Homo sapiens: one gene and its partners. The protein of the gene in region 2 purifies or fractionates together with the protein of the main gene of each other region. This does not show direct contact. Each region holds a gene or a part of one and is shown on either strand. Other genes may lie near its edges. The genes, in order: MED13, NIPBL and AKAP8.

Region 1 (3,652 bases), on a different chromosome or scaffold from region 2:
TTTAGAAAGAGAAACTATAGCTTTTCATATAATTACTGAAGCTTTAAATTGTGAAAGTCAGTATTAACTGAATCTTAGATAATAGGAATATAAATGATTGGTTGTATGCTATAAGGTTCCAAAGACTTCAGTAAGATAGTTTGATAATGATTTTTGACAGATAAACTTAGGATTTCTAGATAATTTTTTTTAAGTTCTTATTTGAAATTGAGTACTCTGAAGTTTTTGTTATTGTATCTCTGACCTATAGGATCTATTTTATTTTTGGATAGAATGTATTCTAGGTGTCTGTATCTTGAACTGGTACTTAGTAAGACCAACATTTATGTAGGAATGTACGTGTTACATTTGTATGTTTTGATAATTGCTTTTCACATTCTAATGAACATACTCTCCAGTGTTAATTGTTATTTTTGAGAGTGACTGCAATTCTTCAAGAAAGCTTTCCAGCTTTTGTAGTTTTTCTAATAAGATGCCTGCTGCAGAGTCCAGTCCTTAGTTGTGTGTATTTAATGTAGTTCTAAATGTGTAAAGTGATGTGTATATGTATATACATATATGTACATATACATGATGTATGTATATATGGTAGTTTTAGCGAGACAATACTTTCTAATTATGCCAAAAGCTAAGTCCGCCAGCCTCCTTTTTCTTTCATTGTTTTGGATATAGTATTTGAGTTATTTTAATCGTTAAGTGGTCATAAAAATCACCTTACTAGAATGTTTGGAGACTGTATAACATTGTTGAAAAACTATAAACTATTGATAAAATATATTTGTTGATAAAACATAATTATTGATAAAACTATAATGGTGACTTAGGGGCTTTGGTCTTCTTAATAAAGTTGGCAGAGCATCTAAACAGACTAAACAGATCTTTTTTTAAGATTCCATGAAATACACTTTGTAGAATCAAAGATAATTTTAAGAGATACATAATGTTTAATTTTTTTTTTCTTTTTTTCTTTTTAAGTAGAGATGGGGTCTTGCTGTGTTGACCAGGCTGGTCTTGAACTCCTGAACTCTAGTGATCCTTCCATCTTAACCTCCCAAAGTGCTGGGATTACAAGTGTGAGCCCCTGCACCTGGCCTAGTTTTACCGTAATAGAAAAAATATTGTGAAAGTTAAAAGACTATTAAAGTTAGATGTGAGCTGCTTTGATGGATATTGTTAAAAGTCAGTTTTGTCTTCTAGGTTTCATGTTACCAGTCAGATATGTTTTCTCCACTGAAACTAGGTTACAGTCTTAAACATTTTTCTCTAGCTTTGATTTTTAGCGTAATTTTCAAAAATGGTAGTTACTTGTACCTTTAAAATAGTGATCAGCTGGGTGCCATGGCTCACTCACGCCTGTAATCCCAGCACTTTTGGGAGGCTGAGGCAGGCAGATCGCAGGGTCAGGAGATAGAGACCATCCTGGCCAACATGGTGAAACCCCATCTCTACTGAAGACACAAAAATTAGCTGGGCATGGTGGCACGCACCTGTAGTTCCAGCTACTCAGTAGGCTGAGGCAGGAGAATTGCTTGATCCCAGGAGGCGGAGGTTGCAGTGAGCCGAGATCTTGCCACTGCACTCCAGCCTGGGCGACAGAGTGAGACTCTGTCTCAAAAAAAAAAATAGATAGTGATCTTGAACGTGAATGAAAATAATTTTGGGAGGTTGGTTTTTTTTTTTTTTTTGAGACGGAGTCTCATTCTGTCCCGCGGGCTGGAGTGCAGTGGCGTGATCTCGCTCTCTGAGTGCAGTGGAGCTTGCTTGCTGCAAGCTCTGCCTCCTGGGTTCATGCCATACTCCTACTACCTCAGCCTCCTGAGTACCTGGGACTACAGGCGCCCACCACCACGCCCGGCTAATTTTTTGTATTTTTAATAGAGACGGGGTTTCACTGTTAGACAGGATGGTCTCGATCTCCTGAGCTTGTGATCCGCCAGCCTTGGCCTCCCAAACTGCTGGGATTACAGGCAGGAGGTAGGGTTTTAACTGCTGTCAGACTTTACTGAATGCTAATGAATGGTAAATAGCTTTTTTTTTGAGATGGAGTCTTGCTTTGTCGCCCAGGCTGGAGTGCAGTGGCGCAATCTCAGCTCACTGCAACCTCCACCTCCTGGGTTCAAGCGATTCTCCTGTCTCAGCCTCCCGAGTAGCTGGGATTACAGGCACATGCTGCCACACTCGGCTAATTTTTTGTATTTTTAGTAGAGATGGGGTTTCACCGTGTTCGCCAGGCTGGTCTCGAACTCCTGAGCGCAGACAGTCCACCCGCCTCGGCCTCCCAAAGTGCTAGGATTACAGGCGTGAGTCACTGCACCTGGCCGTAAATAACTTAAAAATTTATCAAAGTGAAGTGATTGAAATAATAAACTGAAATACAATTAGGAGTGGTATATGATCATATTTATTGTTCCAAAGCTTGTCCTGTACTGTTTTAGTTTGCATAGTCAGTGTTATTTATATAATATTTTAGCTTTTCTTAAAAATAAAACCTGTTATTTACTTAAGAATGTTGTTACTTAAATCAGACGTATCTTAAAGCATAATAAGGTTTTTTCAGATGGAATATATTTGTCTTGCCCTTTTCTTTGCTCTAGGGACAGCGTCTACCTCCCTCTTGGGGTAATTAGTCTGCCTCTGTCTCTCTAGCTAACCCCTTTTTCATTTCTTCCATCTGTGGCACTCTATTTCCTTCTTCTAAGCTCCCCTGAGAAGAGAGCAGCTGGACAGTACAGGGTAGCATCAGCTGCTGGAGGCAGTCCTGAGTTCCAAGTGGAGGTGTAGCACTGAGGAATGGGGTACCGGAAGGACCCAGGTGGTAACTAAAAAGCTGGTTAATTTAGCTTGAGCCTGCTCTTCACAGGCAGTGTCCTTCTGTTTGGTTCAGCACACACCACATCTTGTTACTGAAGTGTTTTTTATTATGGTGATAATATTGCCCTTGTTTTTCTTGGTAGTGAGGGAAGAGGGAAAGCATTTCTTTTTTCAAAGATTAGAATTCTCAGTTTTTCTTAACTGGAATATTCAGTAACAGAAATACAGAATTGCCTTTGTTTAACCCCCTTAGCTCCTTTGTGTCATGCAGTGTATTTTTAAAAATTAACTAATGAACCAATATTGATACTTTATTATTAACTAAAGTATATATTTGGATTTCCTTTATTTTTTTGCCTAATATGTTTTTCTTTTCTAGGATCTCATTTAAGATACCCCTATTACATTTAATTGTCATGTCTCCTTAGGCTTTGTTAGACTGTGACAGTTTCTCAGACTTTCTTTGGTTTTGATGATTTCGACAGTTCTGAAGAATCTGTTCAGATTCCATAGTGCATTTTAAATTTCATTTTCTCTTATGTCACTTAGCATTTGTTTGGGTTACCTTCCTTTCAAGTTTAGCTGATGTGTAGAAATAGAATGTAAACTTATTTTATTGCTAACTGGCAAAGATCAGTTACAGCAAATCACGTCTGATTTAATACATACTTTAAACCCTCAGTTACTCATTTTGTAGCAGTAAGTCAATACCGTTGAGCAAAGTAATTTGCAAAGGCTGGATGATTTTTGGATCAGGATTTGTGCTAACTAGTATTAGCCAAACTATAACATTCCAGAAGGTTATTTGTTCAAAAAATCTCTTGAATTCCAAAGCCAAACA
Region 2 (3,652 bases):
TATATGTGTATATATACACAAACATGCACATGTACACATACACACACATCACTCTAATAGGCAGACACCCAGATAGCTTACTTACATACTAACATGACCATATCAGGTATATACATCTGCATTAAAAGTATACTATCAGAAACGCATTTTGGTGCTAAAAACATATTCATAGGCAATATTATTGCATGTGAAAAACCCAGGTGAAATAATATACCAATTACTAACTAAAAGCTATATTCACTTCTGGATGTTCTTTAAGGAGTTTTAAAAGACTCTTTGTTAGAACAGAGTTTAGAAAGCAAGGCTAGGGTAAGCTGAGAGGGGAGGGAGAGAAAGATGGTCCAGATCAAAGGAACAAGAGGGTACCACTTTCCATCTTTCACCTGACTCTTCTAAAATTGTATAGCCATACTCTTTAGTTTATAAATATAAGCTACTCCCAAACTTTCACTAAAAAATTTTAAAGAAAATTTTTACCTAAAAGAAAACAATTGTGGTGTTAACCCCCACATTCTACAACCTCTTTTATATTAACAAGTAACTCTGAAAAGATGCATTCAAGTTAAATAAAAAAGCCTACTTATTAATTAAGGCTGATGTCTTAACTGACTTTTGGTAAGTCTAATTGCCATAATTTAAAATTTAAAAGCTTCACTCAAAGAACACAAATATTAGCGACTCAGAAGGCAATCTTTTTTCATTATTGTAAGACAAAAGGAAATAAATTAACAGTGAAAAAATGAATGTTGACGAAGACCAAGCAAGAATAACAACAGATTAGCCACAAGTCATTCTTTGAATAAAGAGTTCTTTATAATATGTTTTCAAAGAGCTTTCTTGGTAGACAAGCTACAACAGCATGTTATGAAAAACAATAACCACACACTTTTTGTATCTCCTAATACACTGCAGTGCTATACAACTTTGTGATGATGCAAATGTTCTGTTTTGTCCAATATGGTAGCCAACAGCCACATGTGACTACTAATGAAATGAACTTCCAATTTTAGTTAACTTAAATTTAAATAGCCAAAAAAGGCAATGGTTACCCTCTTGGCCAATGCAATTCCAGATTTCATATACTTGGTTATATATAAGTATAAATCTAAATTCTTAATAATTCTCTTTCACAGAAGGAAAACTTAAATAAACTCTCAGTTCTATTGCCTTCACTACACCTCAGTATATTTAGACTGTATGGACACGGTGGCTCACGCCTGTAATCCCAGCACTTTGGGAGGCTGAGAGGAGAGGATCACTTGAGGCCAGGAGTTCGAAACCAGCCTGGTCAACAAAGCAAGACCCCATCTCTATTTAAAAATAAAAAAAGTTATTTTAAATACTTGTGTACAAAGGGATACAGAAGTATATCTTCTGCACAAATGGCCATTATCTTTTGGCACTTAAGACATTCTTCTCCCTTTGGAAATAATTTTACTCAAGTAACCAGAGAATTCAGAAACCATGCAAAAATAACACCAGTCCCCCGCCTCCCACAAACTTACAATTTAACCAAATTTAAAAAGTAAGTACCATTCCCTATTACCTTTGCATAAACAAGGACAAAAAGATATGTTTTAAAAATATAAAACATATTTAACTAACCATCTCCCCAACAAAATGAAAAATAACCTTTTATATAACTTTCTAAACTATACAAATTATTCATCAATAATTGGCTCAGACACAGGTCTGTAAGAATGTAGTATTGTAAGACATTTTTAAATAGAGAGTTTTTAAAGACAGCTATTTTAATACAACATTCACTTAAGCATATTTCAGAAATATAAGAAATAACTAAACAGCAAAATAACTTATCTCTGTGTAACCAAATAGCAGTAACATTCATAACTACCTTGAGTAGTGGGTGGGAAGAAAAAAACTGTGGGGAAAAAAAAATTCACTGGAAACTTTTTATCTATACTCCTGAAAAAAATTTCCTGTTGTTTGACATAAATGTTATATTTTCATGTAGTAGCTTTCTAATTTTTGTAAATTTCCTTTTTAAAACTTAGTAATCTTAACACTTAAAATCGATTATATTATAAATGACATCAGTAGAAGTATTCTTACCTTTATTTGACTTTGATGGTTTATTCTTGATAGGTTTAAGGGAACTTCTTGATTTGTCCTCTCTATCTTTAATAAGTTTCTGAACATCATCCAAAGACAGTTTTTGTAGCACAACTACAGGCTTAGCTCCTTTATTTAGATCTTCAACTAATCCTATTTTTTCTACTTTGTCTTTCGGCTCTCCTTTCATTTCCATTTTCTTTGTCTCCTGAGTAACATTGCCATCTTTATCCCTCTTGATTTTCGGAATGACAAAATTTTTCAACGCACCAGACCTGCCCCCCAACAAATAACTTGGAAATTCTGCCTTATTGTCAGGGTGTGCTTTATTAGTGTCTACTTTACTCTTGTTACCCTCTGTCCTTTTGTCATCTTTACTAGTTGGTGATTTAAAACCAAGTTTATCAGATCTTGATTTATTAGAATCTCCTTGTTTAACACGAGGACTGTCAGGTCTTGATTTTTGTTCCCCAGAAGATGGTCTTTCCCTTGAGTCCCCTGATTCATGCCTGTGTTTTCGTTCTAGTTTATCAGTTTTTGAACTATCAGATTTAATGCCATGTTCATTTCTACTAGAGGATCTCAATGTTTCTGGTCTTCGAACCCTAGACTGATCCCCTCGATGTCGCTCTGATTCACCCCTGTCATCTGATTTTTGTTTATTATCATGGTCACGTCTTAGTGACTCAGAAACAGATCGCCCATCAGGTCTCTGCTTTAAGGCTTCAGCTCGTTCTGATTTTAACCGAGGTGAGTCAGATTTAGTATCTTGTTTATGTTTAGACACTTCAGGTTTTTTCTCTGTAGATGGCTTTCCAGAATCCCTCCTATTGTCATGCCTGTGTTTTGGTGTTTCAGGTCGCCCTTCATTTTTTTGCTTTGGAGTTTCAGGGCGGCTCTCACCTTTTTGCTTTGGAGTTTCAGGCCTTCCATCACCCTTCTGTTTTGGGGTTTCAGGATGCCCATCACTCTTTTGTTTTGGAGTCTCAGGCCGGCTTTCACCCTTTTGCTTTGGGGTTTCAGGCCTTGATTTTGTTGTTTCTGATCTGCCATTATTTTGTTTGTTGTCATTTGGTTTTGTGTCAGACAGTCTATTTTCATTTTGTTTAGGCTCAACTATGGTGCTCTCGTTTTGTTTGCATTCAGTTGTTCTGCTCTCATTCTGTTTAAGTTCTTCTGTTTGGGTCTCAACTTTAGTTTCTAACTTATTTTCACTTGATTTTGTCTCCACCAATCGGTTTTCATTTGGTTTAGATTCTGCTAATCTACTTTCACTTTGTTTCATTTCACTCTTTGAAAGCTCAGGATCAGACTTTTTTTTAGGTGTCTCAGGATGGTTTTCTGGTGTAGATTTAAGACTTCCAACAATATCTTCCTGAAGAACAGAAACAGGTGCATCATTACATTGTTTGATTTCTTCAGGCTTTTTTATGGAGTCTGAATCCTGAGTTATAGAAGCCTGAGAGTCCACTCTTCCTGCCTGATGAAGATCAATGCTAACCATTAATGCTGGCCTTGACCCATTTCCCGTAGAACCCGTCTCCTGAGAAGCTGGTCTATTACCTCCTGTAGCACCCCC
Region 3 (3,652 bases), on a different chromosome or scaffold from region 2:
TCCCCTAACTCAAGGCCCTAGCATGGCAGAGCTGAACTTGGGTCAAGGGAGAGTAGTAGCCCAGGGGTCAGCAAACTTTGTGTAAAAGATCAGATAGTGAATATCTTTGTGGCTTTATGGGCTCCACAGTCTCTGTAGCAGGAAAGCAGTCATAAATGTGTGAAAGAGTGGATGGGACAATGCCAGTAGTTACTTACAGACAATACAATTTGAAGTTCCTAATTTTTGCGTGTTAGTGAATACTCTATTTTGGCAAAATATTTTTGTTATTCTGAGTAAATAGCTGAGGGTATATCCGAGGTGTTTTTTCTCTATAATTACCAGACTTTTTAGTACAGCTTTAGATTGAGTAGTGGAGTTTCATACGCCCACCCACCTCCACTCAGGTGTACTGAGTGTACACTACACCTGTAGTGAGTGTACTAAAAATCTCATTAGTATGATTTTTTTTTCTTTTGATACAGAGTCTTGCTCTGTTGCCCAGGCTGGAGTGCAGTGGTGTGATCTCGGCTTACTGCAGCCGCAGCCTCCCGAGTAGCTGGGATTACAGGCACCCACCACTGCGCCCAGCTAATTTTTGTATTTTTAGTAGAGACAGGGTTTTACCATGTTGGCCAAGCTGGTCTCGAACTCCTGACCTCATAATCAATCCCATAATCAAAGTGCTGGGATTACAGGCGTGAGCCACCACGCCTGGCCTCATTAGTAAGATCTTTCATTAGCTGGGCGAGGCAGCACACGCCTGCAATCCCAGCACTTTGGGAGGCTGAGGCAAGAGGCTCACTTGAGCCTGGGAGTTCGAGACCCGAGCTCAAGTGATCCTTTTATCCAACTAATGAAAAATTAGTGGGGCGTGGCAGTGCGTGCCTGTAGTCCCGGCCACTCAGAAGGCTGAGATAGGAAGATTGCTTGAGCCCAGGAGGTAAGGCTGCAGTGAGCTGTGATTATGCCACTGTACTCCAGCCTGGGTGACAGAGCACGACCCTGTCTCAAAAAAAAAAAGGCCAGGCACGGTGGCTCACGCCTGTAATCCCAGCATTTTGGGAGGCCGAGGCGGGCAGATCACGAGGTCAGGAGATCGAGACCATCCTGGCTAACACAGTGAAACCCCGTCTCTACTAAAAATACAAAAAAAATTAGCCGGGCGCGGTGGCGGGCGCCTGTAGTCCCAGCTACTCCGGAGGCTGAGACAGGAGAATGGCGTGAACCCAGGAGGTGGAGCTTGCAGTGAGCCGAGATCGCGCCACTGCACTTCAGCCCATGCAACAGAGCGAGACTCCATCTCAAAAAAAAAAAACAAAAAAAAAATCTTGCATTGGTGTGATGCATTTGTTACAATTAATCAGGCAATGTTGATGTGATATTATTCACTATAGCTCATAGTTTTTGTTAATTTGTATAGTTCTCTGAGTTTTGATCCAGTGTGTAAGTGATGTATCTCATGTCAAAATTTGTCATTGAATACACTTTAGAAACTTTACCCCAACCATTTAAAAACGTAAAATTCATCCTTAGCTGAGGGCAGAGCCTGAGAGCACAGGGCTACGGGCAGTGTGCTGGTACTTATTTATGGGCACCGAAATTCGAAAATCCTAAGGGCTGTGCCAAGGCGGGAAGTGGGCTGGGTGTGGCTGGACTTTTTGCAGATCCCTGCTTTAGAGTCAGGGCCATGATGCTAGGCTTGTGTGGCGAACCAGTGCATGCTCTCTGCTGGCGAGGCTTTCTCCTTTCTGCCAGCCCGTGTTTTAGGGCACGAGGGCTTCCTTTGTTTTCTGAGCCTGAGATCTGACTCAGGCAACATGGGGAGTGGGGCTGCTTTTGAGCCACCACCCGGTGTTTCAGGAGGAGGCCTTCCAAGTCGCTCGTGGCACATAACGTCCTCTTTTTCGCTTGAGTTGAGGACGTGACTTTGCACCAATGCTTCGCTGTGCAGTTGGCAGCGCCTGCACTCTGGCTTCTGATGGGAACTGACCCTTTACGAGGTCTCTGCCTGGGGCCTGGCCTGGCCAACCTCTTGGCCAGCAGCCCACAGTGGACGAGCTTCCTGGGGAGCGTGCGGCGTCCCTTCCCTTGCCCTGACGGACGGTTGGCCTTGCCCGGGATAGAGGGCTTGCTTGTGCTCAGCCTCTCAGCCTAGTGCTCTGTAGGAGTTGAGTGAGCTAAAAACACCCAAGGGTGTCTCCCTGAGCGCTGCGGAGGGAAGCCCTGGCCCTGGGGCTGTGGAGGGTGGAGCAAGGTGACAGCTGGGGTGTCAGTGCCTTCGTTCTGCAAACAGGGCTCTTGTGTGTTTCTGTTTCCCCTAAGGTGCATATGGAACTGGTGTGGCCAGCTGGCAAGGTAAGCCCTTCTGTGGGGGGGGTCTGTGGGCGGGCAAGTGGGCCTCTGATCTGAAGGCCAGGCGGGTCAGCCCGTCAGGGAGGTCTGGCGTGGACTTTCTGGCTCTGTTCCTGAGGACGCAGTCAGCCACGGCTGCTGTTGTGTATATGGGGGGACTGCAGAGGGCTGTGGTGGGCGGCCTCAGGGGAGCATGATGGGGAGGACTGCGACCGTGCTTTGGGAGCAGCGGTCCTTTGTGGGGCCTGTCAGCAGCCGGAACTGCTGTTCCCAGGCTCTCAGTCACCCGGCTTTGAATGGGGAACAGGTCCTAGCGTCTGGCATGGAAAACCCGCCGCTCGGCACTGAGGCTGCCCCTTTCTCTGGCCACCTCCTGCTGCCTCTTGGCAGGTCACAGTGCAGTGTGAAGTGATGCCAGCAGCACTGGGTCCCACACCCGTTTTCCTTCTCCGTGGCAGCGGGTGCCCCTCCCCGGTTGTGTCCACCATGGACAGGCCTCGTGGCTGCTGAAGTCTGACTTGGCTCCTCCCCCTGTGACAGGTTATGAAAACTACAATTACTATGGCGCCCAGAACACCAGTGTCACCACAGGCGCAACCTACAGCTACGGCCCAGCCTCGTGGGAGGCCGCCAAGGCCAATGATGGCGGCCTGGCGGCCGGGGCCCCTGCCATGCACATGGCCTCTTACGGCCCAGAGCCATGCACCGACAATTCCGACTCCCTCATTGCCAAGATCAACCAGCGTTTGGACATGATGTCCAAGGAAGGAGGCAGGGGCGGGAGCGGCGGCGGTGGGGAGGGCATACAGGACCGGGAGAGGTGATTATGGACCCAAGCCCTCCCCCGGGACCCCACACATCCCCACCTTTGTGCGCATGGGAGTGGGCACCCACTCTTGAGGGAGGGCCTGTCCCCGCCTCCCTCTTGGGTGTGGCATTGACGAGTTGGGCTCGTGGGGGGTCAGTGATGTTACAGTAGGACTTCCTTGCTTTTCTTCATGGCGGGGCTTGGGCGTGGTTGTTGGCTAAGCTCCCCGAGACTCCTTTTTTCTACATCATGCTATTCCTGTGGCCAGGGGCTCTGTCCCCTGCTCAGCAGTGTTCCAGGGAGGGTGTTGGTCAGTTTTGGTCATCCCAGCACTTAGGTGGGATGCAGGGTGGTTTGGTTTGCTGTTTTGAATGTAGGGGCGTCGAGGTTATACTGAGGGAGTGTGGCAGTGGGTGATCGGGGTGACCGCCCCTGATGGGCTGTGCTTCTGTTGCAGCTCCTTCCGCTTCCAGCCGTTCGAGTCCTATGACTCCAGGCCCTGCCTGCCGG

Evidence for each region.
Region 1: the proteins of NIPBL (region 2) and MED13 purify together in Homo sapiens (affinity purification with mass spectrometry, with the first as the bait; one large-scale study listed by BioGRID). This does not show direct contact.
Region 3: the proteins of NIPBL (region 2) and AKAP8 purify together in Homo sapiens (affinity purification with mass spectrometry, with the first as the bait; one large-scale study listed by BioGRID). This does not show direct contact.

What each region holds. Positions count from the first base shown.
Region 1 is NC_000017.11:62,058,678-62,062,329, reverse strand, and holds part of MED13 (mediator of RNA polymerase II transcription subunit 13), read left to right. Parts: intron 1-3,652. UniProt on the Homo sapiens protein: Component of the Mediator complex, a coactivator involved in the regulated transcription of nearly all RNA polymerase II-dependent genes.
Region 2 is NC_000005.10:36,984,723-36,988,374, reverse strand, and holds part of NIPBL (nipped-B-like protein), read right to left. Parts: coding exon 2,074-3,652; intron 1-2,073. UniProt on the Homo sapiens protein: Plays an important role in the loading of the cohesin complex on to DNA. Forms a heterodimeric complex (also known as cohesin loading complex) with MAU2/SCC4 which mediates the loading of the cohesin complex onto chromatin.
Region 3 is NC_000019.10:15,373,288-15,376,939, reverse strand, and holds part of AKAP8 (A-kinase anchor protein 8), read left to right. Parts: intron 1-2,304; coding exon 2,305-2,337; intron 2,338-2,874; coding exon 2,875-3,154; intron 3,155-3,599; coding exon 3,600-3,652. UniProt on the Homo sapiens protein: Anchoring protein that mediates the subcellular compartmentation of cAMP-dependent protein kinase (PKA type II).